Linked DNA regions of Homo sapiens. The protein of the gene in region 2 purifies or fractionates together with the protein of the main gene of each other region. This does not show direct contact. Each region holds a gene or a part of one and is shown on either strand. Other genes may lie near its edges.

What was found. Proteins that work in one complex are often made in the same cells at the same time.
Region 1: the proteins of CHI3L1 (region 2) and UBLCP1 purify together in Homo sapiens (affinity purification with mass spectrometry; one large-scale study listed by BioGRID and IntAct). This does not show direct contact.

Annotation. Positions count from the first base shown.
Region 1 is NC_000005.10:159,266,179-159,269,835, reverse strand, and holds part of UBLCP1 (ubiquitin-like domain-containing CTD phosphatase 1), read right to left. Parts: intron 967-3,657; 5' UTR 921-966; coding exon 767-920; intron 1-766. UniProt on the Homo sapiens protein: Dephosphorylates 26S nuclear proteasomes, thereby decreasing their proteolytic activity. Recruited to the 19S regulatory particle of the 26S proteasome through its interaction with 19S component PSMD2/RPN1.
Region 2 is NC_000001.11:203,178,360-203,181,153, reverse strand, and holds the end of CHI3L1 (chitinase-3-like protein 1 precursor), read left to right. Parts: intron 1-501; coding exon 502-684; intron 685-1,276; coding exon 1,277-1,393; coding exon of another isoform or gene 1,394-1,568; coding exon 1,569-1,709; 3' UTR 1,710-2,223; downstream 2,224-2,794. UniProt on the Homo sapiens protein: Carbohydrate-binding lectin with a preference for chitin. Has no chitinase activity. May play a role in tissue remodeling and in the capacity of cells to respond to and cope with changes in their environment.

The sequences.
Region 1 (3,657 bases), on a different chromosome or scaffold from region 2:
CCTAACATTAAAAGGTTTGGTACAGATGTCACAGCAATTTTTGTTGTTTTGTTTTTTCCTACATTAACAAATTGTTTCTGCTGAATTAGTCATATCTAAGACACGAAGAAGTCAAAATTAATACAAGGGTTATTTTCTCCCCAATTCTATGTTAGATGAACACCTTTATTCAACTACCTAAACAAAATTAATTCATGTTTTATTCTGTTGTTCAAGATGAATATTACTGTTTTCCAGGAAGCCTTAAAAATTGAGTGCCTAAGAAAACTGCAGATTTACTGTTACTCAAAACTCACTCTTCAATATGATAATCACAAAACACCATAAAAAAAATCCCTTTTAAACTGGATATGAATGCTGCCTGTAATTTTTAAATGTTGTCTTTACTTTTGAAACAGAAAAGATAATTTGGGAAGAGTACGAGGCCCTCGTTACAACGAAACACTGTGCTAAAAGGTAGATGTCAGAAAATAAATGAGTTTCATCCGGGACTTCTGTGCCAAAGGTTTAACAAGCAAATACTGACTGTCTAAAACATCAAAAGTAATCTTAATAATCATGGTATTTTCGAGAACACTTTAATATTCTTACTTTTACCACTAAAACAATTTTAAGAATATTTCTACCAGAGAAATCTCGAAAGGGAGAGACTTACTAAACTACAAATAGCAAGTATAAATTATTAAACAATTATATTCAAAATAATTATTAAAATTCATAATACTAAAAATTCAATGCAAAAAATCTGAAGAGGGGAGAGAATTACCTTTAACTTTGAGTCCAAGTAACTTTTGGCGTTCTGGAAGAACTCCTGTAAGGGTCTTGAGAAACTGTTTGAGATCGAGCACAGTATCATCTTCTGAAAGTGTGGTCACTGAATACTCCTGTCCACCCCATTTTACAATGATAGGGAGAGCCATTCTTGAAACATATGAGGAAGCAGCTTTCCTTCAGAAAAAAAAATACCTGGAAAGGAAGACAAAAATGAACAAGTTAAAATAGATACTGTTTATTGAAGCCAAACTTTTAAGTTTTATGTGTACAGTTTAAGCCTTATTTTACAACTTATGATAGAGAGGATTTTTGTCCATACAGGAGTGCTACCAGAACACCAAAAGATACTAGGACTCAAAGTTAAATTCCCCCACACTCCTAATTTTTGGCTTAGAGTTACTACTTTCTAATACTCTGAGTCTCACTGTTCAACTGGAAATGTGCAATTATGAGCTACCATTCCTCCTGTTCTATTTGGTCAGGTTGATGCTACAAGCAAGTCCTTCCCTGACAGACCATCCATGTTCATTTAACATTTGAAAGGTAGTGTGGTGTAGTTAAGAACACAGATTCTAGAGCCAGATGACCTGGGTTCAGATCCCAGATCTCTCCCACTTAGCCATCTGACTTTGAGAAGTTACTTGACTCTCAGTGTCTAGGTTTCCTCATCTGTAAAATAGGGATGATGATACTACCTACTTCTTAGGGCTTTTATGAGGATTAACTTAATTAACATTTACAAGGTACATAGTGCCTGGCACCTAGTAAACACTACATAAATTAAGTATTGGTTAAACAAAAATCTTTTTAAACTAAAAGCTTACTATGTTCCAGGCAGGCACTGTGCTAAATAAATAGTAAATAGCCATTCTTTGTTTCATATTTTATGAATTGAAGTTTTTACACAATCTCATTAGAGAAAGTAATTTGGTAAGTTTTCCCTCTTTTACAATTAAGGAAACAGGAGTTTTGAGAGGCTATACAATCTGTACATAGACACATAGCTAGTTACAGAACAGGTCTTCTGACTAAATCTTATGTTTCTTCTCCTCCACAATTGTATCTCTTCAGTTGAACATACAAGAGTTAAGGCATCAAAGATCAGTGTATTAGTCTGTTTTCACACTGCCAATAAAGACATACCCAAGACTGGGAAGAGAAAGAGGTTTAATTGGACTTTACAGTTGCAGAATGGCTGGGGAGGCCTCAGAATCATGGTGGAAGGCAAAAAGCACTTCTTACATGGCAGTGGCAAGACAGAATGAGGAAGAAGCAAAAGCGGAAACCCCTGATAAACCCATCAGATCTCATGAGACTTATTCATTGTCATGAGAATAGCATGGGAAAGACCACCCCCCAAGATTCAATTACCTTCCCCTGGGTCCCTCTCATAACACATAGGAATTATGGGAGATATCATTCAAGTTGAGATTTTGGTGGGCACACAGTCAAACTGTACCATTCTGCCCCTGGCCCCTCCAAATCTCATGTCCTCACATTTCAAAACCAATCATGCCTTCCCAACAGTCCCCCAAAGTCTTAATTCATTTCAGCATTAACTCAAAAGTCCACAGTCCAAAGTCTCATCTAAGACAAGTTAAGTCCTTTCTGCCTATGAGCCTGTAAAATCAAAAGAAAGCTATTTACTTCCTAGGTATAATGGGGGTACAGGTATTGAGTAAATATAGCCATTCCAAATGGGAGAAATTGGCCAAAACAAAGGGGTTACAGGGCCCATGCAAGTCCGAAATCCAGCGGGGCAGTCAAATGTTAAAGCTCCGAAATGATCTCCTTTGACTCCAGATCTCACATCCAGGTCACACTGATGCAAGAGGTGGGTTCCTATGGTCTTGGATAGCTCCACCCCTGTGGCTTTGCAAGGTAAACCCTCCCTCCCAGCTGCTTTCACGGGCTGGCATTGAGTGTCTGTGGATTTTCCAGGCACACAGTACAAGCTGTTGTCAGATCTGCCATTCTGGGGCCTGGAGGGTGGTGGCCCTCTTCTCTCAGCTCCACTAGGCAGTGCCCCAGTAGGGACTCTGTATGGGGGCTCTGACCCCACAATTCCCTTCCACACTGTCCTAGCAGAAGTTCCCCATGAGGGCCCCACCCCTGCAGCAAACTTTTGCCAGGGCGTCCAAGAGTTTCCATATATCTTCTGAAATCTAGGCACAGGTTCCCAAACCTCAATTCTTGACTTCTGTGTACCCACAGGCTCAACACCATATGGAAGCTACCAAGGCTTGAGGCTTCCACCCTCTGAAGCCACAGCCCAAGCTGTAAGTTGGCCCCTTTCAGCCATGGCTGGAGTGGCTGGGATACAGGGCACCAAGTCCCTAGGCTGCACACAGCGCGGGGACCCTGGGCCGGGCCCACGAAACCTTTTTTCCTTCCTGGGCCTCCGGGCCTGTGCTGGGAGGGGCTGCCATGAAGGTCTTTGACATAGCCTGGAGACATTTTCCCCACGGTCTAGGGGATTAACATTAGGCTCCTTGATACTTACGCAGATTTCTGCAGCCAGCTTGAATTTCTCCACAGAAAATGCGTTTTTCTTTTCTACTGCATAGTCAGGCTGCTAATTTTCCAAACTTCTATGCTCTGCTTCCCTTATAAAACTGAGTGCCTTTAACAGTACCCAAATCACCTCTTGAGTGCTTTGCTGCTTAGAAATTTCTTCTGCCAGATACCCTAAATCATCTTTCTGAAGTTCAAAGTTCCACAAATCTCTAGGGCAGGGGCAAAATGTTGCCAGTACCTTTGCTAATACATAACAAGAGTCACTTTTACTCCAGTTCCCAACAAGTTCCTCATTTCCATCTGAGACCACCTCAGCCTGGACCTTATGGTTCATATAGCTATCAGAATTTTGGGCAAAGCCATTCA
Region 2 (2,794 bases):
CCAGAAGGAGGGAGGGCCAGGAGGGGGCCGCAAGACCTGCCATCTGCCAGTGCTCACACACCAATCTCTCTAGCCCTCAGTACAGTCCTGCAAGAGGGGGGTCATGAGGCCCATTCCACAGATAAGGAAACTGAGGCCCAAAGTCTGGGCATGCTGCGTTGCTCTGGGAAGGTGATCTGCAGGGTAAATGGAGTGAGGGCAGGGGGCCGAATGGGGAGAGGCTGGGAGCCGAGGAGGTAGGAGTCATTGTGCCCTCAGAGCCAACCACCTGATTTCTGCATCTGTCAAATAGTAATAGCCCCTTCCTATGCCTCAAAGGATTTTTTTCAAGAATGAAACTGTAAAATTCACTTTAAAGTGACATGATCCGTTCCCGGAGGGACAGGGGAATCCCCAGTGCACCATACACCAATAACCCCTGCTAAGGCAGCAGTATTAATTGCTCAACCTTCCGCACCTGTGCACTAACTGCTCACGTTGTTCCCACCCTACCCCACCCAGGACTATGCTGTGGGGTACATGTTGAGGCTGGGGGCTCCTGCCAGTAAGCTGGTGATGGGCATCCCCACCTTCGGGAGGAGCTTCACTCTGGCTTCTTCTGAGACTGGTGTTGGAGCCCCAATCTCAGGACCGGGAATTCCAGGCCGGTTCACCAAGGAGGCAGGGACCCTTGCCTACTATGAGGTAATGGAGTTGGGGAGAAGGTAGGATTCCCCCACACCACCAGCAGCCCTGGGGAAGGTGATTCCCCACCACGTTCTTGCTTTTTCTCCTTTGGGAATAAAGAAAATGTCCGGTTGCCCCAGCATGCCTGAGGAAGTGGAAGGGAGAGGTTAGGACATTTGTTGCTGAAAATCTCCAGCAGGTACAGGCACATGGGCCTGCACCACTAGGCACCTGGGATAGCCCTCTGGCTATGGGGCTGAGGTCTTCCTTCCAGCCCAGGAAAGAGCAGAGGTCAAGAGGCAGATTTTTTGTTTCACTCTAGCCTCTGCTACTCTGTGTGGCCTTGGGCCTGTCCTCAGTGTCAACCAGCAGGCCTCACATCTCTGTTTAAATGGAAGAAGCTAAGCAGGGCCAAGGCAGCCACCATCTCTGGGTCATTTGCCTCTGGTTTGTATAAACTTGTGTGATGCATGCAGCCTGCAGACCCTGCAGAGAGTGAGGCTGCAGGATGGAGCAGGAGCTAAAAGAGATTTGGAGAGTGGCGTCTCCTGGTGACCTGCAAGGTCTCGGCACGACTCCCCACACTGCCTTTTCCCTGTTATCTGCTCAGATCTGTGACTTCCTCCGCGGAGCCACAGTCCATAGAATCCTCGGCCAGCAGGTCCCCTATGCCACCAAGGGCAACCAGTGGGTAGGATACGACGACCAGGAAAGCGTCAAAAGCAAGGTAGGTTTCCCCAAGGCCACACCTCAGGACAAAGAGAAAGAAGGAGGCCCCGCTCCCAGCAGCCAGATTCCTGTCCCTTGCACTGAGGTCTGGGCTGGGCTCACAGAGCACATGTGCCCTGTACACACTCTGGGTCAGGGAACCCAGCCCTGCTCCTCTGGGCCTCCCCTGCCAGGTGCAGTACCTGAAGGACAGGCAGCTGGCGGGCGCCATGGTATGGGCCCTGGACCTGGATGACTTCCAGGGCTCCTTCTGTGGCCAGGATCTGCGCTTCCCTCTCACCAATGCCATCAAGGATGCACTCGCTGCAACGTAGCCCTCTGTTCTGCACACAGCACGGGGGCCAAGGATGCCCCGTCCCCCTCTGGCTCCAGCTGGCCGGGAGCCTGATCACCTGCCCTGCTGAGTCCCAGGCTGAGCCTCAGTCTCCCTCCCTTGGGGCCTATGCAGAGGTCCACAACACACAGATTTGAGCTCAGCCCTGGTGGGCAGAGAGGTAGGGATGGGGCTGTGGGGATAGTGAGGCATCGCAATGTAAGACTCGGGATTAGTACACACTTGTTGATTAATGGAAATGTTTACAGATCCCCAAGCCTGGCAAGGGAATTTCTTCAACTCCCTGCCCCCCAGCCCTCCTTATCAAAGGACACCATTTTGGCAAGCTCTATCACCAAGGAGCCAAACATCCTACAAGACACAGTGACCATACTAATTATACCCCCTGCAAAGCCCAGCTTGAAACCTTCACTTAGGAACGTAATCGTGTCCCCTATCCTACTTCCCCTTCCTAATTCCACAGCTGCTCAATAAAGTACAAGAGCTTAACAGTGTGTTGGCGCTTTGCTTTGGTCTATCTTTGAGCGCCCACTAGACCCACTGGACTCACCTCCCCCATCTCTTCTGGGTTCCTTCCTCTGAGCCTTGGGACCCCTGAGCTTGCAGAGATGAGGCCGCCATGTCCTCTGCCTAGCCGCAGAGAGCCCCAGTGGGAGGCCAGCGTCCTCAGATTCACCTGCCTTGGACTTAACCCAAGCATGGCTGATGGCCTTCCAAATATTAAAGTCATTGCCATCCAGATTTCTAAATTAAATTCCCTGTTGAAAGAAACGTTTTCTGTTTCCTGAAGGCTAGCAGGCCCTGGGAAAGAAGGCTTTTCATCCCAACACTCCCTCTCTTCTGATCCACAGGAAGGTGGTGGGAGCTCATCACAGGACCAGGTTAGAAAGCCCTGAACCCTGGACCCTCAGGGCCAGCAGGAAATGCAGATGTCATCTCATGCACCCTTCCTGCCTCTCGGGACTGGAGTCCCTGCAGAGTGCTTGAGAGATGGCCCTCCAGCCTCCCAGTGAGGGGCAGCCGATTACCTTGGAAGCAACCCATTCCGTGGCTGGGCTGAAATCT